Regions from separate parts of the Homo sapiens genome. Here regions 2, 3 and 4 are each linked to region 1. Evidence: fine-mapped expression QTL. A gene starts in region 1. Each other region holds a variant in brackets. All regions are shown on one strand. Distances are from middle to middle. Region 1 holds the start of CNTN4 (contactin 4). Region 2 overlaps CNTN4 (contactin 4). Region 3 overlaps CNTN4 (contactin 4). Region 4 overlaps CNTN4 (contactin 4).

Region 1 (8,110 bases):
CTTAGTCTTTAAACTAAAACTCCATTTTTTAAAATTCACCTGTATGTCTACTTTGGGAGATCTAAGATGACATCTCCAAAACACATTCATCCTTTACACCTCATTCTATCCACATATGAGTCCATGAGAGGAAAACAAGTGTGCTTAATCTATTTGTTACAGAAGATATAGAAGTGTAGCAGTTTTACAACTGGCTAGAGTATCAGAGATGATGAACAGCAGAGCAGAGATAAGGAGAGAAAGATTTTAAAAATATCAAACCAGCAGTGATCTTTAAAGTGTGCTACACACCCCAGGGGCTGTACAAAATGATCCACCGGGATACATAACAGCAACATGAGACCTTCTATTTCATAATTTTTGCTTTATTCATCTTTTTTGTTTCTTTGTGTGTTTTATAAGTAGTGTATCATATAACAGCATGTCTTCAGTTTATAAATAAATTTTATTGATATGTTGTCAGATTTCTTCTGATAGTAAATAATAATAATAATGAAGATCAATAAATCTAGGCAGTAAATCCTGCCTCCTTGCCTCCTTCACTAGGCTTAAAACATAGCATTACAGGGAAAAATGAACAAAAAGGAACAAAAAAAATCAGTGTGTAGAGACTTCCCCCTGCCTATCATATGAAATAGACTTATTCAACTAAAATAATATAAAAGCAAGTTTTTACAAAATATTAATTTTTAAGATAAGAGAGATTGAAGCTAATGCATATTATGTCTGTCCTCAAATATAACAAAGAAGAAACAACAAGTTAAAATCATGATCAGACAAACTTGTAGAAAAGTCAGTACCATGCATGGGAATTTTCTGCTGAGCAGCTTTATTTTTTTAAGACCTAAATTGAAGGAACGGATGCCCTGTATACATTTCAGAAGAAAAACTGCAGCCAAAAGATTTAGTGCTTAGATCGGAAAAGAAATCAGAAGACCTACTTTTGAACAAAAAGGAGAGAGAAGTAGGTAAAATAAGTGAATGATAAAAAATCCAACATCATTTGAAAGGTTTGTTCTCTAATCACTCTTAATTACCTGCCAATATGAAATGACCATGGAAAAAGGTACTGCATTGACTCCCAATTGACTTGAAAAGTTTTACAACTCAAAGAAACTGAAAAGTGTTGTTTAAAAAACTGCAAATAGGAAAATCTACCTCTGTTGAAACTTACATGTGGCTCTGACATGCACCCTTATCCAAGTCACTTCTCTTAGACTCTTAGTCTTTAATTGAAAAGGTCAGTTTTTCCATCCTTGCCAGCTACCTCCCAGGGTTCAGATGGAAAAATAATGACGTTTATCAGCATCATCTCTCCTCAACAAGACAGAGCAGTTGAAACCAGCTTCAACAAACAAATCAATAGCTATTTTATAAGGTAGCAAAAATAATATTCTCATGAAACTTGTTTTTGATCCTTAGCAATCTTACCTACTCCTGCGACCCACTGCAGATATTCCCACAAAATCTTTAAAGAAATCAAGATAAAAATAGCAAGAATAAACTTACGGGTAACGTGAATTTTCTCATGAATGCCACCCAAATCACCTCCAGGTGCCTGTCTTCATGACACACTGTTCTTTTTCACCCACTTGGGTAGAGAGAGAGAAAGAGAGAACAAACTTGCTATTAGGCAGACTTGGGAACGCTATTGTATGGACCTGCTCATAGGCAACCTATACAGTCTTTACGCTCCTACCCCACTCTCTAAAGGACATAAACCAGAAATCTCAAAAAACAAAAAAATACAAGCGCGTTCCAAATTATCTTGTGTGGGTATCCAAACGACTCAGTTATGTGGAGTTACTCCTTGAACTATCCAGCTCCCACTACAGAAAATTGAAAGAGCTTCCCATGCAGTTAAATGCCACTGTTATTCTGACAAACATGTGCCCGCCCCTATGTTGATTCCAGCAGGAAAACTAGAAAAAGTTCCACGACATTCCTTTCAGGAACTCCTCTTACAAATAAACCTCCAACACACCTCAAGATCCGGCCCACTCTCCTCCACGCAGACCACACACCCAGGGTGCTCAGTCACACTGACTCGCCCTACACAACCTCCGCCAGCTTCTTCGCACCGAATCTGCAGACCCTGGCCAGCAAGCAACCGCCTGATCTTCCCGACGCGCGAAGCCGCCTCCTCGCAGGAGCTTCGCTGCGAAATGTTTCCATGCAGCCGACTCTCTGGCTGGTTCAGAGGGATTCAGGAGCCCACGTCCTCCTACCCTCACCTCCACACCCTTCATAAATAGTAAAACATATACACGAAGCACAAGAGAGAAAATGCACGAAGATTTTGAGCCCCGCGTTCCAGAAGGAGAGTGAGTGGATTGGGGTCTGTGGGGCGCCCGGCGCACAGTTCGCCGCCGTCTGGGCCCGGGGAGGGGACGGGGCGGTTGTCTTGCCTCTCGAAAGAAACTGGAAACCCCCCAGAAGTTGCTGGAAACGAATGCCACCCAACAGGCTCCCGCGGCAGAGACTGGGGAAGCCAGGTACCTTCCCTAAGAGCAGGCACCTGGCCTGTCGCTCGCCGCCGCAGCCTCAGCGCTCAGCAGCCAGCCCGGCACCCAGCGGGCGCCACAGACATCAGCCTCCGTCTCCACGCGGCTCCTTCCACCACGGCTACGGGCTCCTGTTCCTTTAGTCCCAGGTCCCTCCACTCCCCAGGTTCGCGTCCCTCTGCTGCGGGCTGTGACTGGGCTGTCAGAAGAAAAGCCCCGCCGGGAACCCGGCGCCAGAGGCCAGGGCGCACGGAGAGGGGGCAGTAGCCCGAACCAGTCGGAGGAGCTGACTTGAAGGCTTCCCGCAGCATTCCGGGCTCTCGGTTCCTTGTTTTGTGGCTGCCTCGCAGCGCAACAAACTTATTTTCCGGCTGAGAAGGAGAAGAAGGGTCGCTGTGGGGTGACGGTGGCGTCGTCGGGGCCCTGAGTCCTCCGCGCTCAGGCGTTCAGCTCCCGCTCCCCGACCCTGCAGGGCTTCCGGGCTCTGAGCTGGACGGCCCCGCAGACGCTGCCCGGCCCCGCGGGAGTCAGAGCCCCGGGAAGCGCCCCTGTCCTTCGGGCAACCCGCGCGGACCCTGCCCTTTCCCCCCCACACCCGCGACCGCGTCCCCGGGGCATCGCGCGCCCACGCAGGAGCCGGACCCGCACAGCTGCCGCCTCACTTACCTCAGCACCGGGGCGCCGGGCTGGCGAGAGCCTCGGGTGCGGCGCCGGCACAGTCCGAGGGGCCCGGGGCGGCGGCGAAAGCTCCCTACTTGCAGCCAATCCTGGCGTCGAACCCCGGGCTCCGTCTGGCGCGGCGCTGCCCTCCCTCCCGGCGCTCGCGGCGGCTGGAAAAACCTGGCGCGCCGGAGTTCGGGCTGCCGGCTCCTTAGCCGCGGGGCGGGGGAGACGCTCGGGGAAGGGGAGAGGCGCGGGCGGGTGGGAACGGGCGGGAGACGAGCGGGGACGGGGAGACGCGCCGGAGGCCCGGAGCCCGCGCATGCTCAGTGCGCGGCCGGAGGAGGCGAGCGCTGGGGACGCAGCACCTGCCCCGCGCGGCCGAGAGGCGGCAGCCCCAGGTCCCCAGCGCGCGAAATTAGTAAAGGGCGCCTGGCCCGATTCTCAGGCAAGAGGAGATTATCAGCCGGATTCCCGTGCGGGGACGTAGGGGTTGCGTTGTTCAGCGGCCAGGGATGCGCCGAGGCGATGTCTCCTCCCTTTACAACCCGAGTATCGGGGCACGAGGAGGCGCGACCTTCCTGGGTACCCAAACCTCTGGCCTCCGGGAGACGCGGAATTCGGGGGATCGTTAAGGCGCCCTGGCCAGGGAAACAGATGCTTCTGCGTCTGGGCTGAAAATTGCTGAACCGGGGAATGTGGGTGGGCGGGTGGCATTGAACTTAGGCCAGAAGAGGGGGCTTTGGTAGGTTTTTACCTGCCTGTCCTTAGGCGGAGGACACTGGCTGGACAGGCTGCGTTACACACCTGAAGTCTCATCCACGCAAAGTGCTTTCAGGTTGGAATGTGGGGCGGGGGCGGGGGGAGGTCAGAGGGAACAGTTGCTGTAAATTAGGTACAAGGATCAATTTGTGGTGTGTTGTGCGCGGGGGTGGGGCATGTCGAAAGCCTTGTTATTCGAAAGAATGTGCTTTGAACGACGTTGCCACGGTCATTCTACATTATGAATCTACTGTTTCCTTGCAGAAGTGGCTCCCTTCGCCGCAACTCCACACCTCGGGGTAACCGTAGAGATTGGCAGCAATGCCCCAGCCCCTCACCAGCACTGTGCAAAGTGACTTTGACAGGCAGAGAAAAGCCAACCCAGTCGAATTCGTCTGGAAAGCATTCCAGCAACCCAGAGAGGAGCCTCTGTTTCTCTCTCTGGGAAAAAGCCCCAAGGGTTTTGCTGAACCCAGGTCTTCCTGCTCATCTCTCAGCAGTTCAGAGCTACATAAACAACTTCTGACCATTTACGCAATCATGTAAACCTACCCTGACATCTCCACTATGTGGAAAAGATGTTAACTGGAAAACTATTTTTAAACTACTGCAGTAAGCAAATAAACATCCAACTCCAACATATATATGCAGCAGCCTTATTAGTTCATTCAGTGTTGGTTTGGTTTGTTTGTTTTGTCTTCTGCTTTTTAGAATTAATTATTATCTTTATAATTCCTGTTCGAGAAGTGGGCAAAACCAGGCTAGTGATAGGTATTGTTGTGGTCAAATTTTTCATCACTTGAAATTCCATGACTTTCATGATTGCTGAGATTAATGCTAAATAAAGAAGTTACCCCCCCGCCCCCACCCCACCCCAACCTCCCCACCAAAGTTTCCTGATTACTTAAACTTGGAGAGAAATTTTCAGGCTTTTTCCTCCCTCCTTGCCTGGTATGTGTCTGTAATAGAGGTACTTTTGCAAAACTGGAATGTTGGTGATGCAGGTGTTTTCCATGGTAAACAGCCACTGAGGATCAATGGTTCCCAGGTTCCCACTCACTTTGAAGGCTTTTGTGCTTCTGCCGGAACTGTGACTTTTACTACCTGTACTATGTATGATTTTTTTTTACATTGATTATTTCTCTGCAACTAGTCAATTAAAAGTACATATATATAACTTTTAGTAAGACTGTTTATCAAAATATGCTTCACCAGAAGTTCTCCAGAAAATATTCCTGTGTAGTCATGCATACTCCTAACACATTAAAGGGAAATGTCGTGTTTTAGACTGGACACAGAATTTCAGAAAAGAACAAAGAATAAAATATGCTGTCACATTCTCCCACTGGGACTATACATTGAAGCAATTTTCAAAGTTTTATGACAATTTCAGGCAAAGTCCCTTAACTGTGTTTCTAAATTTCAAATGTACATATTTTGTTTCCATTCTCCCCTTTGGCCCTTATTCTGTGCCTGCTATATGCTAGGCATTGTCTTCTAGTAGATTCTGGGAAACAAACTAAACATGACCAAGACTTGCTCCACAGTTCACCATGTAGTTAGGAAAACAGACATTGTGTATCTGGAGAGACAGATTTGGGTCGTGTTGAGGGGATATCAGTTAAACGTTAAGTTAGGAGGAGGCATTTTTTCTTTTCACCAACACACCCCCACACTGATCCAGTGCTAAGCTTGTTCAGTCCCTCCCCAACATTTTCTCTAGAACAGCAGCTAGTTTAAAATGCAGCCAATAATCCAGTCCCTTTTTTCCATCCTGCAGCAAAGAAGCGATGCTCAGCTGCCACCTCTGCCAAGATAGAAAGCCTCTTGCGGAAGCTCCCAGGATTGGGGAGTGTTCCTAATAGACTCAACCCCTGTCAGGGGACAGAAATGGTTTATTTTGATGACAACAGCCTCACACGTGTGTCTCTACATATCCAGGACCCCGACTGCGTGTCCGTTTCTTGATCAGGGGACCTGTGATTGGGATTCTCTGGAGGGGAATGTTCCAAACGAATCAATTAACGCCCCCAGCAGCAAGTTCAATACCACTGCACTGAGACCCAGCTCTGTATCATTGCATGAATGAATTACTGGTGCTCATGTAATTTGCAAATAATCATCATTCTAACACAGTGGAAAATTTCTCCTGCCCGTTTAGCCTGAGTAGCAGCTGAGCAGAGAGCTGCAATAACCCTCACAACACCCTCCAAAATAACTATTTACACATATGTGAAGTTTTACATCCAGGTCTTTTAATATGGGAGTATCTACATAGACACAAGGTCACCTCTTACACTCATTAAACCAATTGAATGAGGACTGATAACTCTTAAGGGAAATCAACGCTGAAACCGCTTTTGACTTTTTGGAGACATGAATGGAATACATCATCAGGTTTTACTCAGCATGCAACCGTTGTGCAAACTCCAGAAAGGGCATCTCTCTGTCCCACTCCCCCATTACCCCTGCCTTATTCCTTCTCTACACATCTGAAGATTTGATAAGTGGGGATTTACTGTAAGAGGAGGAAAGAGGAAAAGCATCACAGGAAAAGAAATACCTCTTTTCTGACCACATCTGATTTGATGCTATTTTCTCCTTACTCCTGGCATCCAGTGGGATTTTAAAAAACTCATATATGCCACCTTTCTTTGTTCTAAATGACTTGAATAAGGTCGTTCAATGGCAGGAGCGACTCAATCAGATAAAAATGTGCAGGTTTTATAATTACGGTTTTACTTGTTTAATGTATAGCTACCTGAATAGATCTTCAAGCATAAAGTAGCAATTATCCCATCCCTGATTTTAAAATATAAACTCAAGTTTGCTTTAATTAAGTAGATAAATCAGTATTTAAATAAACAATTGTATCAAGAAGAGCTTTGTGTTCAGTTTCGAACTGGAGTATAATAAAGTAGAACTCAGCTAAGGACTTTCAAACCAGCCTTGCAAAGCTTCCTTCTATGCAATTGTTTTAGGTGACTGATTGACACTTAAGCTTTAAACTAAGGACATTGGACTAATAATGGGCCCATACTGGGATAATGATAATTAGCACACAAAAGCACAGTTAATTGCCATGAAGGTTGGACACAGACTGACAGATAGAGTCAAAGTAAACTAGAAACCTGACACCCCAGCCAAGATTCCTTTATAAACGTGGCTGTGAGACACCCACTGAATTTAAACATAATAAGGTGGAATTAGGGACCAATCAACTGTTTTCTTAGCCACACGTTTTCCAGATTTTTTTGGATTCTTTATACAAAATCCAAAAATAATTGTTCCAAAGGTCTATTAGTTGCAAAAGTATTTATAGTTGATTTCTGATGTCCTCAGTAATTATGTTCTATAAAGTCACTGCAAACACTGGAGACAATAAAGGGTTATGTTCCTGACAGCCTCTGGTAACAAGATTTTCATCAACTGATAAAGATACCTTCTTTAATATATACTGTTGATTCATTAACATAGAACTCATGGCCTGCAGCACTGTAATTCTTGCCTGAACAAAACTTATCTAACACATGTATTTTCTCTGTGAGGCACATCACAGCTTTCTTTTGCTTAGGAATGCTAGACAGCACTCCAGCACTGTGCTCGAGGCCATTTTAAGCAGCAAAATCACCAACAGAAAAACCCAAAATTTGAGAAACATGCACTAAATATACTGCAAAAAGGAGACTTTTTTAGAATATGAGAGCTGAAACAAGAACACAGAGCATCACTTTGTTTGATCTAAGCTGGGAATGTGTGCATTGGGCAACTACAATTTTTATTCTCTGTGCATCTACAAATACCTCTGTGCGTCTACAAGTGTCTACTCAAGTGCCTTAAGTATTGACTTTGGAGTTATAAGTAAATTTCAGTAAGTGGGCAAATTCACAAATATGTTATCTGTGAATAATGAGGGTCAACTGTACCAAATGTCTCCTTTAAACGGCCACATCCGCCCATATGGTATGCGATTCAATTTAGAGACATTCAATTTATACAGAATTCATCAAATCATTTATCTTTTCATCTTATCCTAAACAATTTACATTGTATTCACATAACTGTAATTACATATTTTCTTAAATATTTTCATTTTGTTCATGTTTTTAATATCAGTTTCTTCATATTCAATGTGTCCTGAACTTTTCTCTATCATTCAATAGTTATATATCCCCTCACTTTTA
Region 2 (8,110 bases), 960 kb before region 1:
TGATGGTGGGAATAACACAATCATTCTTTCTTAATATCAAAGTCTATGCACCTTCTACCTCACAGGCTGGAAGAATTCAGAGCTTACCTGAGAAATGAAGCTTATCATCCATGTCTTCTGTGCCCATGGAAAGGTGCTGCTTTGTATGTAGCATGTGTGGGCTCCATAGAAAGTAGGTACACTGAGAGAATCCAAATATCTGGCACAATAGAATTTCCTTTCATACAGTTAAATCACAAGTGGACTACACACACAAAAAGGAGGGCAAGAGTAAGCACTTTGAAAGGTTAAACAAGCAAAGCAAATTTTCCTAGTGGTCCTCCTTCAGAAAAAAATCTCAAGCAGCAATATAGTCATTCCACTCGAGTGTATTACTTGGGCTAAGGGCCTAAGAAAGTCCCCTTGGCTGGCTAAGCCTAGAAAATCTGTTACTTATACCAACCCAGCATTTCTTCTCTTACCTTTGGAAAACAGCATCTTAGTTTTCCTTTAACTATCCCTCCCCTGTGAGTACAAGGTACTCTGGCTGTGGAACTCAAATGGAACTGATCACTTTCCCAGGAATCTGAATATTGAGCATAATGGCGTCAAAATTGGAAACAAAGCTGATTCATCCCCACAATAGCACCCCAAAAAGACTTTCCAAAGTTCCCATTGTCTGGACCCACAGAGTGGCCTGGTTCTTATTCTCCTCAAGAGTTGGTCCTTCAGTGTTTCCTTGGCTCATATGATGTAACCTGTGTCATTCTAATTCCTTACTTTTTGTTTGCTCAAGTTACCCAGGGTCGTTTCTTTGCTTACAGCCAGTGGACCCTACCTGAGGCAACCATGAAAGCCAACAAATGAGACAAGTTTGGGTGGAGGTGCTCATGGGGCACTTTCTAAAACATCTTCAATTCAGTTAGACTCAACTAATCCAGGACCTCATTTACCCGATGATGAAGCCAATTGGTCAAAGACTTCTTCCAGGTACAAAGTTAGAAGCCAGGCCTTTTAACGCTTTTCAGCACATAACGAAAGTAATGACACAGTCTTCCCTGGTTGGTTTGCTGTGGCACACAGGCAGGCAACTGATGCAAAATGCTACTTCAAAGACCCCTTCATTCAATTAATCAGTGAGTATTTATTGCAAGGCACTGTGCTAGGCACTATGGAGAGTACATGGAAGATAAGACCAAAGTCCCTGCCCTCAAGGAGCTTACAATCTAGTTGGGAAGACAAGCCATACATACAAGAAAAAGTAAGTAACAATACAGGAGTTAAATTAAAATGCAAGATAACAGTACAAGAGATTTCCAAAAGTAGTATCTGATTAATTACTAAATGAGCAGCATTGATAGGGGATGCAACTACTTCCAAGCGAGAATGTCATAAAGGACTGAAGCATGGGAAGTCTTTGCAGACAAACTGGGGCTGGAGCTACCCTAGGACAGCAGGGATCTGAATGGGAGAGAAGGGTGGAGAAGGCATTTCAGGAAGGGGCAGCCATAAGACCAAAGGCACAGAGGTGAGACCAAAAGCAAGCAGTGTTCAGGGGTCAGGGAGGGCTTACTGTGGCTGGATACACAGTTAAATCGTTTTGGATTAAAAAGGGCCTTAAGGGCCGGGTGCGGTGGCTCAAGCCTGTAATCCCAGCACTGTGGGAGGCCGAGGCGGGCAGATCACCTGAGGTCAGGTGTTTGAGACCAGCCTGACTAACATGGTGAAATCTCGTCTCTACTAAAAATCCAAAAATTAGTCCGGTGTAGTGGTGGGCGCCTCGGGAGGCTGAGGCAGGAGAATTGCTTGAACCTGGGAGGCGGAGGTTGCAGTGAGCCGAGATCGCAACATTGCACTCCAGCCTGGGTGACAAGAGTGAGACTCCGTCTCAAAAAAAAAAGAGCCTTAAATGCTCAAGCTTAGAACTTACCCTTTTAGCAATGGGGGGTGAGGGAAACAACAGATATACTTACAGTAAATATACAAAAGACTTAGCTAATCAAGAGAAAATATTCAAGTCTCATCTTCAGGACATTTACTTGTGGATTAGGACCCTCTCTACTTCCAAAGAGGATTTGAAATGGTGCTTCAGGGTTGTCAATTCCAAAGGAAAAGCTCTGGGTCATCTAGATTTGGGTAGAGACTTTTGAGTCCCTCTATGATCCCAAATTATAACTAGCACAAAGGTAAGCTAACAAATTCCCTGACAGGCAGGCAGGAAAAATGCTCCCGAAAGACAAGTATCTTTACAAATGACAGAATATTTATTAACAATACCTTTAAAAAAGATTACATATGCTAGATCACTGGTAAATATCATTTACACTGGGGTTGGGAACTCCCTGGGTGTCATTTTTTTTCGTTCATTTTATTATTTTGCTGATTTTTTTTTTGCATGTGATTTTAAATTTTATTTCAACATAGAAGTAACCATATCAAACTAAGAAAGGAACACAGCTTGAAATACTGACAATATTTTTTTCCGGTTACCACCCTAGTTTTTACACAAATGGAATCCCGATTATGACTTTATTGGATAAATATAACTAGAAGGTTGAAAAGTTATATTATTTGTAAGCAAAAATGACAAACTATAGCAAATTTGAGTTCTCTGAGAAAGAAGAAAAGGTGGCAGCATGTTTACATGAGAAAATGTTTATAGAAAATTCCATTGCCTTTTATGTCACTGTCCAGTAGGGTTTACTCACAAAACCTTTCTCATTGTAACAAATAGTTCTTTTCATAAGAATACAGTTTTGTTGATATTGTCATTTTCCAATGTGTGATTTTAAGACCTAGAAGGTAAAGCATATAAAGCAACTAGGCTACCTATTGCAAAACAGAATCATCAAGAAACCATACAATTGTACTAAAGAGCTTTTATAGAGTCATATTAAAAATTCTTGCAGCAACTATTTGTTGAAATAGGAGCAATCTTCCAAAGTCCATATGTAATTTTGATTCAAAAGAAGGGCTCTATTATTACAGAGATACACATATTATATATAAGAAATTTTGTAAAGAAATTACGAATCCATTGACAGAGAATTACTTTTTTTAAATTTACATTCAAAATAGATACAGTTAAAGATAATAAAATGATCTTTTATCCTTTGAAAGACTTGGTTGACTATAGTAACTTTGGGTCTATGTTACTACAGGATATATGTTACTTCAAATTTAATGTCTAAGATAATGCTACCACAAAGACAATGCTAACTCAGTTGAGTGAAAAGAAAATCTTCCTGTACAATGCTAAATTCAGGGATGGGAATATTGCACAAGGTGCCTCTTGGGCAGTACATTGAGCTTTTGAGATTGCAGCCATTCCTGAAACCATCTCAAGTTGGGTTGAACAACAAAATTCACAACGGCATGAAAACATACTGTACATGTCAAAATCACAACGGCATGGGAAACATACTGTACATGTCAAGTGCATTAACCACTAGAAGAGTAGTTTGCATACAACAGCCTTGAGTTACGGACCAAGTCTTCCGCTGTTCTGCCATGAGATCCTTGTAAAACTGTACGAGTAATTTGCAATTTATTTACCAAGATGAGTTTCAAACTCTGTCTTTAAAGGAAATATTTTCAAATTATAATTGCATGATTGTGTTGCCCATAGCATTTTACAGCCGAGGAAAAAATTAATATCTACATTATATGTTAACTTTAAAAAATTCTATAAAACACTAAATATATAATAAAAAATATGCATATAAGGACATATGTAAACTGCTTTGGTAACATCATATTACAGATGTCTTCAGTGCATTGCAGAGTTTCCAAAGAAACTTCAGACAAAGCTAGATTTGCTTTGAGGAAGTACTGTATAATGCCATTC[C/G]TAAAGAAGCAAAAAACATTTTTATTCCAGTAATAAGATGTACTTGAACAACAATATTACTTAGTACTGGGTGTCTTCAAAACAACTAGCTAAATGTTGCTTATATTATAAACAGCAAGTCCTTCAGATAACTTTTGTCATAAACTGGACCTAGCTGTGAGGGAAATCATTATTGTACTGATGGCTGACAGCGTACATGCATTCGAAGTGGAAGCCCCAGATCCTCTCGCGTAGGCATCTGAAAAGAGAGAACAAATTCACTCAAAACAGCCCCATCCCGGCTTCAAAGGGAAGAGGGGCCACGGGGCTTTTTGAAACAGCAGAACTGCATGGATTCTACTGGAAATGATGATCAAGGTCTTAATGGCTTTTAAATATCAGTTCTATGACTACCAAGCTACAAACCTGGGAGTAGGGTATAGGACAGCCCTGTACCTCTGTCAAAGCATTTGTAAAGTAAGGAGGTTCCTATCTAATGTGAGAAGAAACTTCAATATTACTAGTAACAATACTGATAAACAGCATGCTATGTCGATGATTCAACAAAATGAAAATTGCTGCTCCCTTTTGAACTCTATCTTTCTGCTGGGCACAGATGAATATGACACTTAAATCTTGCAAAAACTGGATGAAGGCCAGGTATTATTATTACCTCGCTTAACAGATGGCGGTAATTTGCGCCCAGAGAAATAAAGTAACTTATCTAAGATCACCCAGCTAGTAAATGGCTAAACTGGGGTTCAAACCCATGTCTGTCTAAATCTACCCCTTTTCTGCAAACAAAATAGCCTCAATCCTTTTTTAAATTTTCTTATGGGTCTTACACTTTTCATAGTAAGAAGCTATCAACTGTCATTCGGGGGTTCTTCAATCTTGTAAGGTCTCTTTGACCAACATGATGAAAAATCTCTTGAAACAGATCATGTTTGGTTCACAGTCACTTCCTTGTTATCTAATAATTACACCAATATAATTGCTTAATATATGTTTTTGTAATGAATAAAACCAGGAATCATCAGTCTATCTAAAAATGTCAATCCCTGCAATGATAAGAAAGTATGAAGTATAAAGTCAGATTTTTAATGAAGCGAGATAAGCCCCAATCTTGTATTTTTGTGGCCTGGAGATTTTACTTCCACATCTCACCAAAAATCTAGCTCCCTTTCGATAGAAGTTAGAGGCTTTGTTTGATAAAGTATAATCCAATTGTCCCCCTTTTAAGACAAAAATGCCTTTTGTGTTTGTATGCAAAAAAGATGCAGTAAATATAAACTCCATCCAGAAACACTGGCATATCACCCCTTAGCAGAGGGATGTCACATGGCTAAAAGTCAGGATGGTGGTGAGGATTTTGTCCATAATTTAAAATATCATCTTTTTACCAATGTCTTGAAAATTTATACCTCCAGCCTTCACTGCTCCCCTAATCTCCAGACTGAAATCTGAAAGCCTGTGAAAGTCTACACTTAGATATCTAACCACAGTCTTTTTTTTATTGCTGTAAAATACACATAACAAAATTAGCATTTTAACTCATTTAAAATGTACAAATCAGTGGTACTAAGTATACTCCAGTGTTGTGCAACCAGCACCACTCTCAAGCTCCATAACTTTTGTGTCACCCCAAATGAAGACCCAGTGCCTAAACCCCCATTCCCCACTGACCAGCCACTGCCAATCACTAGCCTCACTTCTGTCTCCACGGATTTGGCTATTTTGTTTTTTTTCTTTAAATAAATGAGATCACACACAACAACAAAAAAATCATGCTCTTAAGATACTTACAAACATGGTATTTGTAAAAACAGAATTGAATGTATTTGCTCAAAAAGAATATGCTATTCTCCCATGCTATTCAACAACATTTGAAAGTGAAGATAATCTTGACTATAGAGAGACATACACATTGATGCACATGTTGCATATACCCATTGAAAATAAGTAGTAAATTCCAAATATTTCCAAGATACTGAACTGCATACACTGTTTCACTGGAGAAAAACTGCTACGGCATACTTAACAATGCTTGTCCTTGTTCCTTCTGACTGAGTCAATGCTTTTCACTTTCTAAACTGTAATTCTGGGGCTACAATAGATGCAATGCAAACTACACAGGTTGACACGGAAAAACCTTAGTGACTAATTCGGGTCTGCTTTAATCTGATTTTTGATTAGCAACTGAGTAGATCAGTCAACACGGGCAAACTGATTTTTGCATGAAACTGCCTATGGCCAGCAAACATCTGGAGAAGGGGGGTAGTGTTCTCCATTTCTATTTTAAGTCTGCTTTTGCAGGCTGAATGTCTTTCAAGCCCTGACTCATCTGGAAGGCTGATAAGATAAGACAGGCAGGAGAAAAGGGAGAAAAAAAGGCATTCTCACTTGATATCTTTGGAATTCGAATTTGTTCACTGCTGCTGCCATCTCCTCCGTCGCTGAATGGCTTAATTTCTATTATATAATCTTCATCGAAAGGCAAAGAAAGCTCCACCGATGTTTTATTTGTTTCAATGACAGATGTGCTGCTTTGTCTGTTCCATCTGTACAAGACCTGCCAATACAGAAAGAACAGGTGTCACCTGCCGTCTTCACAAAGGTCCCAAATATGGAGCATTCATTTGTTTTCACCTCTGGGCACGAGCAAAATGCAGGGATGTAGAGGTTGTCTGGCTGCCCACTTGCATTTGGAAGGCTCATTTGCAGTGAGGGCCATGACTGCAGCTACCATTTTATTCCAAGGAAAGAGCTGAAAGGATATTATATCAGGGGCATCAGCAACGTGATTCTACCTACTGCCTAGCCTCTCGGAGGCTCAGTTGACACTCTTGGGAAAGTGGAAAATATGAGTAGCTCCTTAAGGATGTACAGTGCTCAGTTACACATCGGTGCTTTGGCATCAGAATAAACTTGGCCACTGTGGGATCACAGGCCACTTCACCTTTCAGAGCCTCACTTCAGTCATCTGTAAAAGGGGGACAATAATACCCAGTCTTCTGGAGTGTGTTTTCAAGATTGCACAAGGAGGCTGGGTGCAGTGGCCCATGCCTATAGTGTCAGCACTTTGGGAGGCCAAGGTGGGTGACTCACTTGAGGCCAGGAGTTTGAGACCAGCCTGACCAACATGGCGAAACCCTGTCTCTACAAAAAATACAAAAATTAGCCAGACATGATGGCACACACCTGTAATCCCAGCTACTCCAGAGGCTGAGGCAGGAGAATTGCTTGCACCCGGGAGGCAGACGTTGCAGTGAGCCGAGATCAAGCCACTGCACTCCAGCCTGGGTGACAGAGCAAGACTGTCTCAAAAATATAAAAATACAAAAGATTGCACAAGGTTTGAATCTGGTGATGGCCTAGCTTAGAGGAAGCATGTAAGAAATAGTATCTCTGAAGGCTTAAAGATAATCAGAGAACATACATGGCAAAGGTTAGAGCACAAGCCAGGCACAATAAGTTATGATCACGACTCTTAGAGACAGGACATTTCAGCACAGGGAGAAGATATCGGAAAGGCAAGAGTAGTAACCTCCCATTCCTTTCCTCTGGAACCCCACTTTATGGGGCTAGGTAGCCAAGAGGCAACCATTGTCACCCTGGACATATCTGCAGCTTGCAACAGTCCTGTTTTCATCTTGGGCCCCCCATGGGTTCTGAGTTTGGAGGTGGATTCATTTGATGAGGTGGCCAACTAGCCTCCTAAAAACACATTCACTTACCTGGGATTGCCTGCTGTGATTGGATTTACTCCAATCAGGAACAAAATATACAGGTCTGGGAAAGTGTGCCTTTACCTATAGAACCACTAAAGCTCATCCTCTGTAGTTTCCCCTGACAAAAAGATAGGGTTGGATGAGGTCAGTGGTTTTTGGTCCTGGCTGCATGTTAGAACCATTGGGGTGCTTGTAAAATACTTATGCTGTAGCTCAGTGGTTTTCAACAGGGTGGGAGGGGCAGGGGAGCAATTTTGCCTCACAGGGAGGTATCTGGCAATGTCTGCAGACATGTTTGTCAAAACATGTCCTCCTGTTGTAGTGGATAGAGAGACCAGGGATGCTGCTGAACAGTCTACAATGCACAGAGCAGCCCCGCAACAAAGAACTCTCTAGCTCAAAGTGTTGACTGTGAGGAGGTCAGTAACCCCGCTCCAGTTCCACTCTAGCCTGCCTAAGACTGCACAGAGGTGGGATCCATGCTGTAGTTGTTTTCTAAAAGATCATCAGGAGATGTTAATATGGGATAGGCATCATGATTAGATGAATTAGACGCGTAGTTCTCAAATTCAAG
Region 3 (8,110 bases), 290 kb before region 1:
TGAATTTCATCCAGCTATCTTTAGGTTTATGATCATTATATTCCTTATAATTTTTATATTTTTCAAATGTCTCTATTATTAAATATTCTTCTATGTATTAAGTAACCAAATAGTAATATAAACAAATTTCTTAAACAATAAAAAAGCCAACTGCATAAATGAAGAAGGATGCCATTATTATGTAACATCATAGTCAAAACAAAATAATACAAAATCATACTTCTTTTGATAAAAAATAAATTCACAGTAGTAGCAAGTGCTGTACACTTATTTTTTAAATGTTCTTTTTACTCTTAATAAAGATTTGCCTTAAGAATAATAAAACTAACTCATCAGGTTAAATATTTAATAAGTGATTTGCCAACTGCTTCACAAAGACAATACTTTGTAAAGAACCCTTGCATTACCAAAAGCATTTTTAAGAGATATACAGCAAAATAGACTGTGTCACATCTAAGTAACTTTAGATATTTTTCAATATTTCATTCATTTAAATTATTGTATATTTACTATCAGATAAGTTTTATAAATTTGAGTAATTCCAGATGACACACAAAATGAATATTTATTTATTACTATAGTAGACTATAACTGATATTGGAAGTCACACGACTTATGGTTAGCAAGTTCAAAACTCTAACTTCTATTTCTTCCCTTTAGGTAGTCTTCCTGAAGTAAAGATGCAAAGCCAACAGATGGAGAGAAACAGAGGTTCACGGGTTTGCCACATGCATGATTTCTATAATCTCTAAATTGAATGCGCTTAGTTGCAGCTACATCTTATCTCAAATATCTGCAATAATTATCTCCAATGCTCAATTAAATTTTTGCATTTCTCAATTTATCACTAACTACCCTATGTATATGTTTCAGTTATAACTCATCTCAAATAATTTTAAAAGACTTATGTAATACTTAATAATTCGTTGAAATGTTTCCCTTTCGTTTCTAAAGAGGAAAATGTGCCCTTAGCCATCACTTTTTAAATCTAAAAGCTACAAACAGAAATTGCTTTGCAATTTTCATGTACTCCTTAGAAATTTTCTAGCTTCAAACATGTGATATTTGCTTCTCTTACATAAACGTCTCCAAAAATGACTGCTAAAAATGAAAACATCTTTTCCAACAAATATTTTCAATGCAATGTAAACACATATTGCAAACAATGATTTAAACTAATTCCAAGAAACCCAGCTATTGGCATTCTAGGATTTTGCTAGTTAGGGGAACTGGCCCCAGATGGGGAAAGCATTCTTTGTTGTCTGAAGTGATTACAGTAAAACAGGCCCAGACAGAAAAACTATGGGTTGTATGTCTCAATACTGCAACTTTACCACCTGGCCATTCTACTGTCACACAAAGGTCAAGCAGACAGCAATGCAATTTTGAGGTGGGGAAGGAAAATAATCCAGTCAGAATTCAAGCAAATGTTTGAATTCAGAGTTTGAATTCAGAGAATGTTTGAGTTCAATAAGCACTCATTTTTCCCTTCTGGGAACCATGTAAGGCAATGAGATATGAAGATAAATAATATATAGGCCCTTACTTGAGGAATTCCTAATCTAACCAATGTCATAGATATATGAACAAATATACTGTGACATGAAAATTAATAAGTAGTGTGTGCAAGGTATAGTAAGACGTAATTCCTATAAAATGAAGGTGGGGTGATAACCTCTCTTCTGAACATAAAAAGAAGGATTCTCGGGAGCGACTGCTGAGTGAGAATGCATGTATTCATTCATTTATCAAATATTGATGGAACATTGTTATGGGTTGAATTGTGTCGCTAAAAAGATGTGTTGAAGTCTTGACCCCTGGTACGTGTGAATGTGACCTTATTTGGAAGCAGGGTCTTTGCAAATGTAACCAAGTTAAGATGAGTTCATTAGGATAGGTCATATCCAATAAGACTTATGTCCTTATGAGAAGAGGAAAAAATTTGAACACACAGGCATACAGGGAATGCAGCATGTGAAGATGGAGGATGAGAGATGAGCTTGGAGTTATGCTCCCACAAGCTGCAGAACAACTGGGGCTAACAGAAGCTGAGAGATGCGACCCTCCCCTAGAGGTTACAGACGGAGCACAGCCCTACCAACACCTGATTTTGGACTTCTGGCCTCTAGAAGTGTGAGAGAATAAACTTCTGTCATTTTAAGTCACCCTGTGTATGGTACTTTGCTGTGGCAGTCCTAAGAAACTAATACAAGCATCTGCTATGAACAAGACACCAGGAATATTGCTCAGGTAATAGTGGAGAAAAGGACAAAGACTCTGCCTTAAGTATGCTAATAGGTTATTCAGTGCAACAAGAGTAATATAAACAAAACTATAAACAGGTATTGTTTGTTGGGAGAGTTTTAAGTGATTTGATATTACTGTAGAAATAAAAAGTGTAGAAATAAAAATAAAAAATAAAAAACTGAGTAGAAAGTTGAGTAGTAGACAGATTATTTTTAAAAAGAGTTTGGGATTAACCTTGTTGATATGAGTTATGGATTATGGTTTAAAGTAGAAAATGATATGTTTATACTTTTAACAGGTCACTCTGATATCAGCAATGTAATTTATTTGTTCTGGGTAATACCAGAATAGACCAGTTAGGAAGGAAGAGTAAGAGGCGAAGCAAGAGAGAAAAGGAGGATCTGAATGGAGGCAGTAAAACCAACAATGACTTTCAAGCCAAATGAGTTTGAACGTCAACCACTGTAGAAGGGGCTATATGAAACCAATGTTTTAAAAAAGAATATTGCTTAAGGCAGTGCACTAACAAAAAAGAAAAATCTGCAAAAATAGGTTAAAAAAAGATAGGTAAAAATTAGTCCTTCTACTTAGAAACCAAGGATATAATGTAGAGGTAACATGAACACACACACACACACACACACACACACGCACACATTGAGTTGTTACTGGTGTAGGAGCCAGGGACAAATTTACATGTGAGAGCTGCCTGAATAGCTGGGCTAAGAGCATGGGAGATGTGAGAGTCCTATTCAGGTGTCATAGAAGAAAAAGAGATTTCCACAAAGGGAGTAATTTTAAGTCCTGATTTAGCTGGGCATTTGCAATTCACCATGACTTAAGATTTGTTTTTGACAAACTCATGATTTCCCAATCTATTGTGTTAGAAAACCATTAAAATAAGCATAATAAATATGTCTCTTCTTGGCATTCTCTAACATTAAATCTAAGCAGTTTCCCTTGCTTTTTCCCCACAATTTAATCTAACAGG[C/T]GGATTTATGTGCTGCGAGTAATTAGGCGACTTTGGAAGAGGTAAGATGGTAAGATGAGAACTTTGGTGGAAGCATGCCACGGCTAGACTAAAGCAACTTAAGCCAGGATTCATAGCATTTGCCCTCCAGGTGCTCAGAAGTAGTGAACTTAAGCAGGTCCATCAGTACACCAGGGCCTACGTTTAGGCTTGTTCCTGTACAACAACATATTAATGATGTTAATAATAATGATAGCAATTAAAGGTTACTGAGTCCTTATGATGCACACGGCTACATGCTGTAAGCTCAATTCATTAGCTTATTTGATTCACCCAACAACCGTATAAAGTAGGCCCTAATCTTATTCTCCCAGCAGAAAAGCCAACTTCAGAGAATATAATTTTTTCAAGGGTGAATTAGAGATGTGAATACATTTTTAATTATAGTTATTACAGTCAGTCATAGGTATCAAATGGTTGTGATATATACATACACAGAAGGTCTCCAACTTAATGGTTTGACTTATAATTTTGTGGCTTTACAATGGGTTTATTAGAACACAAGTCAAGGAGTAACTGTATACAGAATTTATATATATATGGAGTGAGATAGGGAGAGAGGAGAGGGAGACAGAGGGAGAAGAGAGGAAAGAAAGGGAGAGGGAAGGGAGAGGAGAGGGAGAAGAGAGGAGAGGGAGAAGAGAGAAGAGGGAGAGACAGAAGAAGGAGAGGGAGGGAAAGAAAGGGAAGGATAGGGAGAGGAAGGGAGGCAAAGGGAAATGGGGGAAGAGAGAGTGGCGGAGAGGGAGAGGGGGAGAGAGGGAGAGGGAGCAGAAGGAGAGAGAGAGAAAATAGTGCTGTCGTTACATTTATGGATTCTTGACAAGATTCCCTAGGACCCAGACCCATTTGTGCTGTGTTACCTGGGACAATTTACCTAATCCCTCCAGGCCTCAATTTTCTCAACCGTGAAATGGAAAAAATAAATAGTACGTACTTCAAAGGGTTGTGGGAAGATTAAGGCAGTTAAAACTGTGCATAGAAAGTATAAAGGAAGAAAGCACTACTTAGCCATTATCATTCTCACTTTCATCATCATCATCATCACTATAAATGGTTACTCATTACTGTAGATATTTAAACAGAGGTTGGATAAATATAAGGCAAGCGTATTATAAAAAGGATTCACATGCTGGATAGGTAATTGGATAAGATTATCATTATTCTGTGAGTTAAGTTATATGCTCATATAAGTCTGGGAAATACTACATAATATATTGCCTCCTTGGACTTTTAAAATTAATGTCAGACATATTAAGGTCCTCAATTGTCAATGAAGCTATTTATCTTACTTTTTTTTTTTTTTGAGATGGATTTTCGCTGTTGTCACCCAGGCTGGAGTGCAGTGGCACAATCTCGGCTCACTGCAACCTCCGCCTCCCGAGTTCAAGCAATTCTCCTGCCTCAGCCTCCCCAGTAGCTGGAATTACAGGCGCCTGCCACCATGCCCAGCTAATTTTTGTATTTTTAGTAGAGATGGGGGTTTCACCATGTTGGCCAGGCTGGTCTCGAACTCCTGACCTCAGGTGATCCGCCCGCCTCGGCCTCCCGAAGTGCTGGGGTTACAGGCATGAGCCACCAGGCCTGGCCTTTATCTTACTTTTAATCCATCATTTTCCAGTTCTGTCAGACAATGCTACCCTTCCTGTACTTTACAGCTCAGTTTAACTCACAGCACTGGCATACCTAACAGGGTATATTGTCTAATCTGGAAGCAAAAGGAAGCATTCCTTATTTTCGTTCCTAATGTACCAGTAATTCAAACTCAAATAGCCAGTCACATAAATGAGCAGAATAAAAGTAGAAGTCAAGCCTTTTAGGAACTAGAATTTTTTAGAAAGTGTTCCTGTTTAACTGATTACAGATTTAGGCTAAAAAATGCCTCCTGGTGTAAGTAATCTAAACTCAGACTAACAAATCACAATAGGGCCGGACGCAGTGGCTCATGCCTGCAATCCCAGCACTTTGGGAGGCCGAGGCGGGTGGATCATGAGGTCAGGAGTTCAAGACCAGCCTGGCCAAGATGGTGAAACCCAGTCTCTACTAAAAGTACAAAAATTACAGCGCGCCTGTAATCCCAGCTACTCGGGAGGCTGAGGCAGGAGAATCGCTTGAACCCGGGGGGCAGAGGTTGCAGTGAGCTGAGATCGCGCCACTGCACTCCAGCCTGGGTGACAGAGCAAGACTCCATCTCAAAAAAAAAAAAAAAATCACGATAGGAAGAAAATGTAAGAAAAGAATGTTCAGTAAGGTGTATACCATGTTTTTTATATAAAGCTGTATAGAGTGGTCCACTTTAAACATATCTCTAGCAGACATCACAGAGCCATAAATCTTATGTCCCTAAGCAAATCAAAATTATTTTTTGTGTGTGAATGAAACAGGGTTTGTGCCTTTGTCTCAAGATTTGGGAAGAACAATACATTTTCTTGCCAGTTCGAAATTTTATTTTTTTAATTTTACACAGCTCTACAGAGACAATTTGGTCTTAGAACCTTGCACCTTCATAGAAAAATTTCAAATTCTTGGCTAAGATATTAAAATATATGTTTTCTGAATATTTTCAATGAGCTAAAAACATTTTTAAAATATGCAATATTTTATAAGAAATACATAATTTTTTAATTTATATAATCAAAACAGTACCAGAGCCTTTAACAGCCTTTGTTAAAGAATGGAGACTTTTTATACATCATTTACAAATATTTTAATTGGAAGAAAATCAGTTTGAAAGTCTTCAAATATTCATCTTAACCTACAGACTTAGAAGGGAAAAACTACCATGCATTATGTGCCAGATATTCTCCTAAGCGCTTTTACATATTTTATATCTTTTGACTTCAGATTTATTAATGCCACATTACAGAACACTATAGTTCAAAGAGTTTAAGTTATGTTCCCAACACCTCCAGACTAGTGATAGCTAAGTAAGAGACCTAAGTGCAGAAGGTGAAACTTGATCTGATTGTCATGTTGACTGTTCTGTACATTGTTCTAAGGGGGAAATGTAGGACAAGGTACAAAGTATTATAAGGCAAATATTGGGGCCCATTTCTCTCTAGAAAAAACAAAACAAGGCCAGGCGCAGTGGCTCACGCCTGTAATCCCAGCACTTTGGGAGGCCGAGGCGGGTGGATCACGAGGTCAGGAGATCGAGACCATCCTGGCTAACATGGTGAAACCCCATCTCTACTAAAAATACAAAAAAATTAGCCGGGTGTGGTGGCGGGCGCCTGTAGTCCCAGCTACTCAGGAGGCTGAGGCAGGAGAATGGCGGGAACCCAGAAGGCAGAGGTTGCAGTGAGCCGAGATTGTGCCACTGCACTCCAGCCTGGGCGACTGACCAAGACTCTGTCTCCAAAAAAAAAAGGAAGAAAAAAACAAAACAAAACAAAAGAAGGGAAAGGTTTAAAAATTTGGAAACATCAGTACTCAAGACAATAGAAAATAACAGTGTTGAATTCAGAAAATAGAAAAACACATATGATTCAAATTGATCTGGTCAATTATAAACCAACTAATACAGAAATCACAAAATAACAATCTTTGAAGCTAGAAAGACACCTAGTTTGCTCTTTCCTCTCTTAGGCATCCCCTTTTGCAAATGAAGCTACAAACTCTAGAGAGAATAAGTTATTCGTTCTTATGTAAAATAGGATAAGAATGGAAAAAAAAAAAAAGAAACCCACTAAGCATGCATGATCAGCAAGTCCAATCTGGATATACTGAATTTGGCAATAGTCAATGTAGTAAATGACCTGGGTAAACTGATCATTTTGTTAGATCTACTCAGTGTAAAGTGGGAATATTTACTTAGCCCCTAAAAGTGGTGTTCAGATAAACCAATTAAAATTTGCAAAATATCCTTCAAGAGTGGTAAGCATCGTTACTATTCAAATTCATACCAAATCTCACCTGTTCTGCATAGCTATATAAAGGTAAAATAGACACATTTCATGTTCTTCAACTATTTCCTCTTTCCAATCTACAACATCAGATCTTAGTGCTCTTTAATATTTTATCCAAATGACTTAAAGAATCAAAAGAGAAAAACAGATTCCTGGACTAACAACAGAGATGCAAACCCTAATGTTACCATTGAGGCTGAGATACGCTGCCAATATCTAAATTTTACATAAAAAGGAAGGGCTGCTTTGGAAAATTCTCATCCCATTTTCCCTAACTTCTGTGAAAACACAATGGATAGAGGAAAGAGAATGACATTTTTATTTCAGATGATCAAAGTTATTGAGAGCTTATACCAAGAGACACAGTATCTAATTAAATTATCACCAAAACCCTATGATTTTTTTTTTTTTTTTTTGAGATGGAGTTTCACTCTTGTTGACCAAGCTGGAATGCAATGGTGCGATCTCAGCTCACCGCAACCTCCATCTCCTGGGTTCAAGCGATTCTCCGGTCTCAGCCTCCCGAGTAGCTGGGATTACATGCATGTGCCACCATGCCCAGCTAATTTTTTTGTATTTTTCCTAGAGATGGGGTTTCTCCATGTTTGTCAGGTTGGTCTCGAACTCCCCACCTCAGATAATCCGCCCACCTCGGCCTCCAAAAGTGCTAGGATTACAGGCGTGAGCCACCGCGCCCGGCCATGATGATATTCTTATAACCCACAGTAGTTTAAGCAAATGAGGAAACTGTCACTTTGAGAGGTTATATAATGTTCCCAAGATCAAATAGCCTGAAAAAGTCATGACAACAGATTCAAATTCTTGCAGTCTAATTTCAAAAATAAGATTTTAACAACAAATGATATCTCCTATCCCTGACATATTTTATAAATACTCATCTAATGCTCATAAATAACAATTTATA
Region 4 (8,110 bases), 790 kb before region 1:
TGAGAAACATACACATACTTTGCTGATACTGGCTGATATCTTGTATTATAAGAACGGCTTTGGAAATGCAGTCTGGGGATTGGAAGCCTGTTTTCTCCTTGAATTCAGATTCGTTTGGACCTAATGATGTCTAACACTCCTTTTCATTTGATTTGATTTGATTTTTATTTATTTATTTTTTTTGAGACAGAGTCTGGCTCTGTCGCCCAGACCAGAGTGCGGTGGCGCCATCTTGGCTCGCTGCAAACTCTGCCTTCTGGGTTCACGCCATTCTCCTGCCTCAGCCTCCCGAGTAGCTGGGACCACAGGCGCCCGCCACCACGCTCGGCTAATTTTTGTATTTTTAGTAGAGACGGGGTTTCACCCTGTTAGCCAGGATGGTCTCGATCTCCTGACCTTGTGATCCGCCCGCCTCGGCCTCCCAAAGTGCTGGGATGACAGGCGTGAGCCACTGCGCCCAGCCCCTCCTTTTGATTTTAATAAGTGAAACCTTTAGCCTTTAGATTGTCTCTTAAACCAACAGGATTCATAGTTCTCCTAGTTTTTCTGTTAATTTGTACTTCATTCACACACTCTTATTTATGGCTTCTTCATCTCCACATAAGTTACAACTGACTTGCTTCTGGCAATGGTATGGGAGATGGCATCTCCCATAGGCCAATCCTTTTACAGATAGCACGGATAGCAAGGATAAACTCAAGTTCAGATATAAAAACCAACTATATGAAGATACACTAGAAGGCAACTCAAAGCTGGCATATTTCTATTAATAGGTATTCATGAATACATAAAGCAAATATAACTGTAGGAAGTAATCTGTATGCGAGATAACAAGTAAGATTTCTGAATGTGCTCTGCCTCCTGTAAATGTTATGAAAATTAGGAGAACATTATCATTATTTCATATCTTTAGGTTAATATTGAAAGTCTTCTGCCATCTGACCAGGTGTGGTGGCTCATGCCTGTAATCCCAGCACTTTGGGAGGCCGAGGCAGGTGGATCATCTGAGGTCAGGAGTTTGAAACCAGCCTGGCCAACATGGTGAAACCTCATCTTTCCTAAAAATACAAAAATTAGCCGGGCATGGTGGTGCCTGTCTGTAGTCCCAGCTACTCAGGAGGCTGAGGCGCGAGAATCACGGTGAGCTGAGATCGTACCACTGTACTCCAGCATGGGGGACAGAGCAAGACCCTGTCTCGAAAATAAATTAACAAATACATAAATGAAAATGAAGTCTTCTGCCATCTGATTTTACCTACATCTCTTACTTTCTGTCCAACTATGCCCATTGAATTCACAGCTCTTGGTGAATAAGGGTCTTTGTCCTCCACTCCAATAAGTCAGTTCAGAACTTTATAAATGAGTTATAGAATAAAAACATTGTAAATCAGCAATATGTGGATTTTCAAAAAGGCTGTTGGGCCCGATTTACTCAGTTATACCCAGATCAATCAAGCTATGACTCTAACCTTACACAGATTCATTTCTCTATATTTCTTTCTTTTATTTTTTTAATCTTCAAAGCCTCTACCTAGTGTTTCCCTCAATCTGCTCTTACTCAGCTGAATCCATCCCCTTCTCTTTCCCTTATACACCTTGAGTTCAGTCCCAAATGCAACCAATAATGGAAACTACTAATATATGGAATATCTAATCAGCTTCACTTTATGCACATCATTTCTAAACCTCATAATAATATTCAGGTTAAGTAGACTTGTACTCATTTTATAGGTAAGGCCCAGAGACATTAACATCCAGATTCAGAAAGTAGCTCAGTTAGCAATGGTACACAGGCCTGCTTGGCTCCAACATCCATTCTCTGTCCAGAGCCTCTCAAAAAATGTCCAACCCTAACACAAATGACAATGGTAGCATTCTTTTGAATGTATCCTTCTTAAAGTGCAATCTAAGAACCATTGTAGGTCCCCAGGTTTCCTTAAGAGAGTCCATTATGTCCTCTCTTTCCAATTATATATGTGTCAGACCATATTTTCTTCATATACTTCAATCAAAACAAAATATCATGACAGACTGAATACAGAAGTATATAGGAGAATGCACTTTTATTCTAGTAAGACAGACATTACAGAGATTTGCAAAAATATAAACCAAGCTACTCTTTTCATTAAATATTTTTATTTGGAAAAATATAGTCAGTTTTCTTATGTTAATTATTTCTAACATATACTGGTTGTATTTTTGTTATTTTAAAGTAAATTAAGTTCTAAGTTAAATTCTCCATTTAAATTAATTATATGGCATATATGGGTAGATATAACTCACATAAACAAAGGCTCTTTGAGGTATCCAATAATTTTTCAGGGTAAAAAGGAGTCCTTAAACCAACAGTTTGAGCCCTCCTGCTTAGACAAGCAGAGGAACTTCTAGATAAATGAATCAACTTAAGCAAAACCTCCTATAAGTAAATTTAAACAATATTCATTGGTGAATAAAAAAATGTAACTGTGACATTTTGCCTTCTCTGGGACTATAGAGTGAGATGACTTGAATTGCATTTCAATATATTGTCCTTGATATGACTCTTTTTTTCATGGCTTAACGTTTCTTATTAGGTGAGGACTTTATGCCTCCACTCCTGTATTAATTCTCTCTATTATTCGCAACGTTTGCTTAATGCGTACCCCTTAAAAACTGTAGCAACATACTTTATTGGAACTATCAGATGAAAGAAAGAAACAAAAATTGTTGACTTTATCTTAAGTGACAGGGGAATTGAGGGTATCAATATCAGTTCTGTCTAGGACAATTAAGCAAACTATTGCCCTACTGTGAAATTACCTTATGTACTGTGTTCAGTCTTTGGTTACTCTGTCCTTTAAGCTTCTTTGCAGGGCTGAATATTATCTTGTGATCACATATACATAGCACATCCATGGGGAATTAGTATGCTCTGCTGTAAGATGCTTAAGTATTCATTTATTGATGACCTTAGAGATACTCAAACACCATTTGCAGTGTCATCAAGCCTACAGTTTTGCCTTTAGAGGCAAAGGACTGTAGCACAAAGGCTCTAGACATTTAGTCTTACATGTAATTTGAAGAAGAAAAAAAGGGTTTTTTTGGACTCAATAACCAGGTGACCAACTTAGAAAATAGAAAGTGAAAAAGTCAGTTGTTCATCCAGATGTTTTCATTTGTGACACTGGTAATGGAAAACGCAAGAAAGAGTATCCGGATGATTGATGGATTTTTTTCACCTTACCTATTGTATTAAAATGTTGTATTGGCAGGAAAAGTAACACAGGTAGAATAGCAGAAAAAAGCAGTTCTAGCTGTGATTCCCATTCACTGCATTACCTTGAATAAGTTATTTTGTATCTCTGGATCTTATTTTCCTTAATTATAAAAATCAAAGGGTTGGCCCCAGCAGTTGCTTCCAGCTTAAGTATTACTGGATTCTGTGAAATACAGCCTTGTTTACTGCTCAAATATTAGATTCCCCATTTCCTAATTATGAAGATGGTTTAACTCTCATAACACCTGTTACAAAGAGAAGAAACTGTACAAAGATATTAAATATCAGGCTCTTGTAGTTCACACTTCATTCTACTAAATGATGACTATAATTCTATCAGTCTTTTTGGGCAAAAAGGAAGTGACTACAGAGACAGAATGAAGTGCAAAGATGAATAATTACCAAGTGAATTAAATACATTTTATATTTCCCTTTCCTTTCTTCAAAGATAATTGCCTTAGCGCTCTCATTCTACTTTGTGTAGACTGGCTAAAATGCCTGATGTGACAGTAAGCTGTTAGCTTTCCAGAGTAGCAGGAACACCTTCTCTTGCATGTCATTTAATCTTCAGCTTCACAATACCATGGGTGGACAACCTAAACATAGAGCATTCTCACTATGTGGTTCCCAGACAAGCAGCATCAGCATTACTTGGGAACTTACTAGAAATGCAAATGCTTGGTTCTACCCTGGACTTACCA[A/G]ATCAAAGCCTCCATCTGGTATGTTCCCACTGGGAACATAGAACGAGACCCAGAATTCTGTGTTGTAATAAGACTTCCAAGTGATTGTGATGCACACTGAAGTTTCAGAACCTCTAGCAAAGCATTCGAAATCTAGCTCTGTTTTTTACTGTATAAACTTAAATCAATTACTTTAATCTCTTTGGGACTCAATTTCCATATCTATAAACTAGACAGATGTAGGAATGAAATGAGCATATCCTATTGGCTCTAACTCCAAAATATATCTCAAGTCTCTCCATTTCTCTTCCTCTCTTACGTCCTAACCAACAATGTCTCTCACCTGGATATTGGCAATGGTCCGGCTTTTGCTCTTGGTTTCCAATCATCCATTCACCACAAAACAACCTGAGCGGTCTTTTCAAAACATTAATCAAATCGAGTCACCCTCCTGCCTTGAAATGCTGTAATGGCTTCCCATTTTACTCAGAGAATAAAACCCAAACTCTGTGCCTGGCTTACAAAGTACTGCAGTCTGTCACCTTCCCAAGTTTCAAACCTTTGCCCCTTGCTCACTATGATTTAGTTAACACTGACTTCCCTGCTGCATATCAAGAAAGTCAAGTAGTTTTCTGCCTCAGAGTCTTTGCACTTCCTCACCTTCTGCCAGCAATGCACTTCCCCTTGAAAGCCTAGCTCATTTTCATCCTTTAGGTTTTGGGTCAGAGGGCAATTCCCAGACAAGTCTTTCCTGACTACTTCATCTTATGAAATCTTTCTCTTGCTCTCAGCTACTTTCTATCATATCAAATTATTTATTTATTTATTTATTTGAGATGGAGTCTTGCTCTGTTGCCCAGGCTGGAGTGCAGTGGCACAACCTCGGCTCACTGGAACCTCCGCCTCCTGGGTTCAAGTGATTCTCCTGCCTCAGCCTCCCGTGTAGTTGGGACTACCGGCATGCACCACCACCACACCCAGCTAATTTTTATATTTTAGTAGAGACGGAGCTGGTTTCGAATTCCTGGCCTCAAGTGACTCACCCACTTCGGCCTCCCAAAGTGCTGGGATTACAGGCATAAGCCACTGCACCTGGCCAATCAACCTCATTATTTTCTTTATCACTCTTACCAAAAAATAAAATTTCCTAGTTAATTTATTTGCTTAATAGTGCATTTTGGTTAACTTCCAGTAAAATATTAGGTCCTTGAGGGCAGGGATTTTGTCTTGCAGCCATAGTGCCTGATAATGTCTCCCACATGGTAGGCAATAAAAAAAAATTTGTTAAACAAGTAAATAATGTATTAAAGTCATTTTGGAAAATGTTTATCTTTAGTAACAGAGATCCATAGCATTTTACCACTGAAAATAAATCTATTTTTAGGAAGTTTTTAATGCCAAAAACAGACTGAGAAAAGTAGATTCAACTAGACCGTACAGGTTATAGCAAAAACAAATTGGGAAGATGGGGTAGGGTAAAAATGTTCTATCTCTGAACTTGCTTCAGTTCTTCATACATACCAAACATGAGTAGCACAGGGTAACTTAAAGACATGGCTACAGTAGGGACAAACCAAAGGGCAATAGGGCTTCCATTATTCAGACACTGGGAACAATCATCATGCCTAGTAGGCTTTTGAAAGAAGGCAAAATGGTTTTAATGCAAAATGGTTTTAATGCAAGAAGGAAAAAAATTGCCATTTTGCCAACCCTGAATAGGAGTTAGCACACTTCTGGTTGCTGAAGTGGAGAGCTGATGAATGCAATAAACAACCTGGAACCCAAAGAAGCAGGTTTCTAAGCTCAAACCCATGGTTTATAATTCCTAGGTTGTAAGAAATTCTTGTCAACAAAGACAGAATGTTCATGGATAAGTGACTGGGGTACTTTCTCACCTTTTATCATCTACATGGTGATTTTAATTATCATAATTCATTTAAATTGGAGACCTATGCAGCTGGATATTAGGAACACAGCACTGGGAAGACCCAGACCAGAAAAAAGTGAGAGGAAAAAAGATGACAGCCAAGTGCTTATGTATAATTAAGCTCTCCTGTGGCTGTGACAATGAAAACAATTAGATAATTTTTGTCACTGATGTGCTAGATGAGGAAAAACAAAAGAATAAACATAAATGCAATAGCCAAGTGCTGTGGAAGTCAACTGATCTGACAAGTTTTTAACACCAAGCGTGGCTGACAAGTGAGCTAAGGCTGAGTTATCTTCAGAAAGCAGGCAAATTTTATTTTATTCTGCTCTTTTTCCCATGCATGGCTGCAGATAACTCCATTTAAAAAGGAAACATTGTTAGAACCTGATTTTCATCTCCAGGGCAGGATCCCTGAAAAAAACATTTCCCTGCACAGGGCTGGGAGCCAGTGACAAAGTTGATTTTCCATAACAGTAATCCTGGAGTACTGTATTTCCAGTGCAGGAAACCTCTAACCCACAGGAAAGCAGTATGCCGACCCCTGGTTGCAGAAAATTTCATACCAGTTTAACATACTGAGAGCAGGAATTTCAGTTAACAGAAAATCATGAAAGTTAAAATGACTTTATTCAATTAGTTAAGCTACTCAAATAACATTTAGGAACAGCCACCACTGAACTGAAGAGACTATTCAACCAAGAAAAAAGAGAAAATGTTGGCCAATTATCTGAATATTTACAGATTGTTCCTATCTGATATAGAAAAAATAATTATTACATTGGTGAGAAAAACGAGCCCTACACAGTTAAAAATACACAGCCATAGCATCTCACTGAATAAATCTGTAATTTACAGTCTCATGATTTTGCAGTCAGTTAACTGTGGTGTCTTTTGCTTTACAACCCATCAACTAAGATACCAACTATGACAGTTTAAGAGGAAAGCAAAGATTAAATATCAAGTCTGTCATCTGGCATGAGGAGAGTCAGTCCTTTAATATTCTTGAAGACAGACGAATGATAAAAGAGAAGTGCAGATGTATTCAAACAGCTACTGCCCAGCTCATCAAGTGAAGTATTAATACTTTCTACAACTCTGTGTGTTCTCTCCCCTCAGAAGCTGCATCAGGGGAACGTGAGTCCAAAATGAAATGCTGAGAGTCACTTAGGGGAGGTCATTGAAGGCTGGCTCATAGTGGAAATCTCTGCCCAGTTTCCAATCAAGATTTAAAAAATGTTACGTGATTATCGATCAGAATTCTTTGGCCATAGCTTTTTCTTTTATTCCTTCCTTCCTTCCTTTTTCCCTTTCCCTCCCTCCCTCCCTTCCTTCCATTTCTTTCTTTCTTTTTGGAAGGGAGAGCTTTATTAGTCTGCCTGGTGGCCATTCTGACAGGCTAGGAAGCGTAGCCTCCCTTGGCCAGAAGCTGTAAACAGGCACTTCCAAGGAGGAGCAAAGGGAACAAACAGGAATTTGTGCTGAGTGGAATGGCCGAATATACATATTTAATAAGCTACAGGAGGAATCATGGATATTTATGAAAGAAGAAACATGTGCATGTGCAACTGAGTTTCATGGGTTCTGTGTATGAAATATACATATTTTCATATGTACATAAATATGTATATAAATATGAATATATGTATATTTCATACACAGAAGCCATGAATTTATATACATATTCATATGTATATAAATATGAATATACATATTTAATAAGCTACAGGAGGAGTCATGGATATTTATGAAAGGAGAACCATCTGCATGTGCAACCCTTCATGGGTTCCGGGTATGAAAAATGGCAGTATTAGCATCTGAGGGTGGAGGTTTTGGCCCTGTGATGTCAAAAGGTAGACCAGAGGACATGAAACCCCTCACGGCACATCCTCCCTAGAATGACAGAACCATTCTGTGTTGGTGGTCTCTTATCAGGCAAAAAATAAGGGGCAGCATCAGGTGCATGGTTGATGTCAGTGATGGAGTCTTTTCAAAGGGCTAGATTGTGTTTAGCCCTTAGGGAAGAAAGGCTCATTGCGGTTAGCAAGGGAGCAGGTATAACTAGATGTGTCTGACATTACCCTCCCATCATGGCCAAGAACTCATTTTTCAATGTTACTCTGGGCCCCCCCTTAGCCAAGAGGGGTCCCCTTCTGTCTACTGGAGGGCTTAGAACTTCGGTCATATCTTAAAACCAAAATGCTTTGGAAGAAGAATTAGTGAAATAAATAGACTTTTGTGGGATCA

The links.
Region 2: its variant is fine-mapped to the expression of CNTN4 in testis (GTEx, PIP above 0.99).
Region 3: its variant is fine-mapped to the expression of CNTN4 in nasal epithelium (TOPMed, PIP above 0.99).
Region 4: its variant is fine-mapped to the expression of CNTN4 in testis (GTEx, PIP 0.95).

What each region holds. Positions count from the first base shown.
Region 1 is chr3:2,094,039-2,102,148 of GRCh38, reverse strand. It overlaps CNTN4 (contactin 4), which reads right to left and starts at 3,283. Exons shown (of 25, transcript NM_175607.3): 1 at 3,171-3,283; 2 at 1,510-1,591. It overlaps LOC124909338 (a long non-coding RNA gene), which reads left to right and starts at 3,894. Exons shown (of 2, transcript XR_007095785.1): 1 at 3,894-4,002; 2 at 4,191-4,568. RefSeq lists an enhancer at 6,720-7,327.
Region 2 is chr3:3,052,074-3,060,183 of GRCh38, reverse strand. It overlaps CNTN4 (contactin 4), which reads right to left. Exons shown (of 25, transcript NM_175607.3): 24 at 6,209-6,377; 25 at 2,225-4,064. The coding sequence ends at 3,964. All of the region lies in intron 1 of CNTN4-AS1 (CNTN4 antisense RNA 1), which reads left to right. Among named protein-coding and RNA genes, the nearest start is that of CNTN4-AS1, 5.0 kb to the left of the region's middle. The variant C/G (reference allele first, on the strand shown) is at 3,827.
Region 3 is chr3:2,379,549-2,387,658 of GRCh38, reverse strand. All of the region lies in intron 3 of CNTN4 (contactin 4), which reads right to left. Among named protein-coding and RNA genes, the nearest start is that of CNTN4-AS2, 240 kb to the right of the region's middle. The variant C/T (reference allele first, on the strand shown) is at 3,239.
Region 4 is chr3:2,888,106-2,896,215 of GRCh38, reverse strand. The region is part of intron 10 of CNTN4 (contactin 4); the gene reads right to left. Among named protein-coding and RNA genes, the nearest start is that of CNTN4-AS1, 170 kb to the left of the region's middle. The variant A/G (reference allele first, on the strand shown) is at 3,958.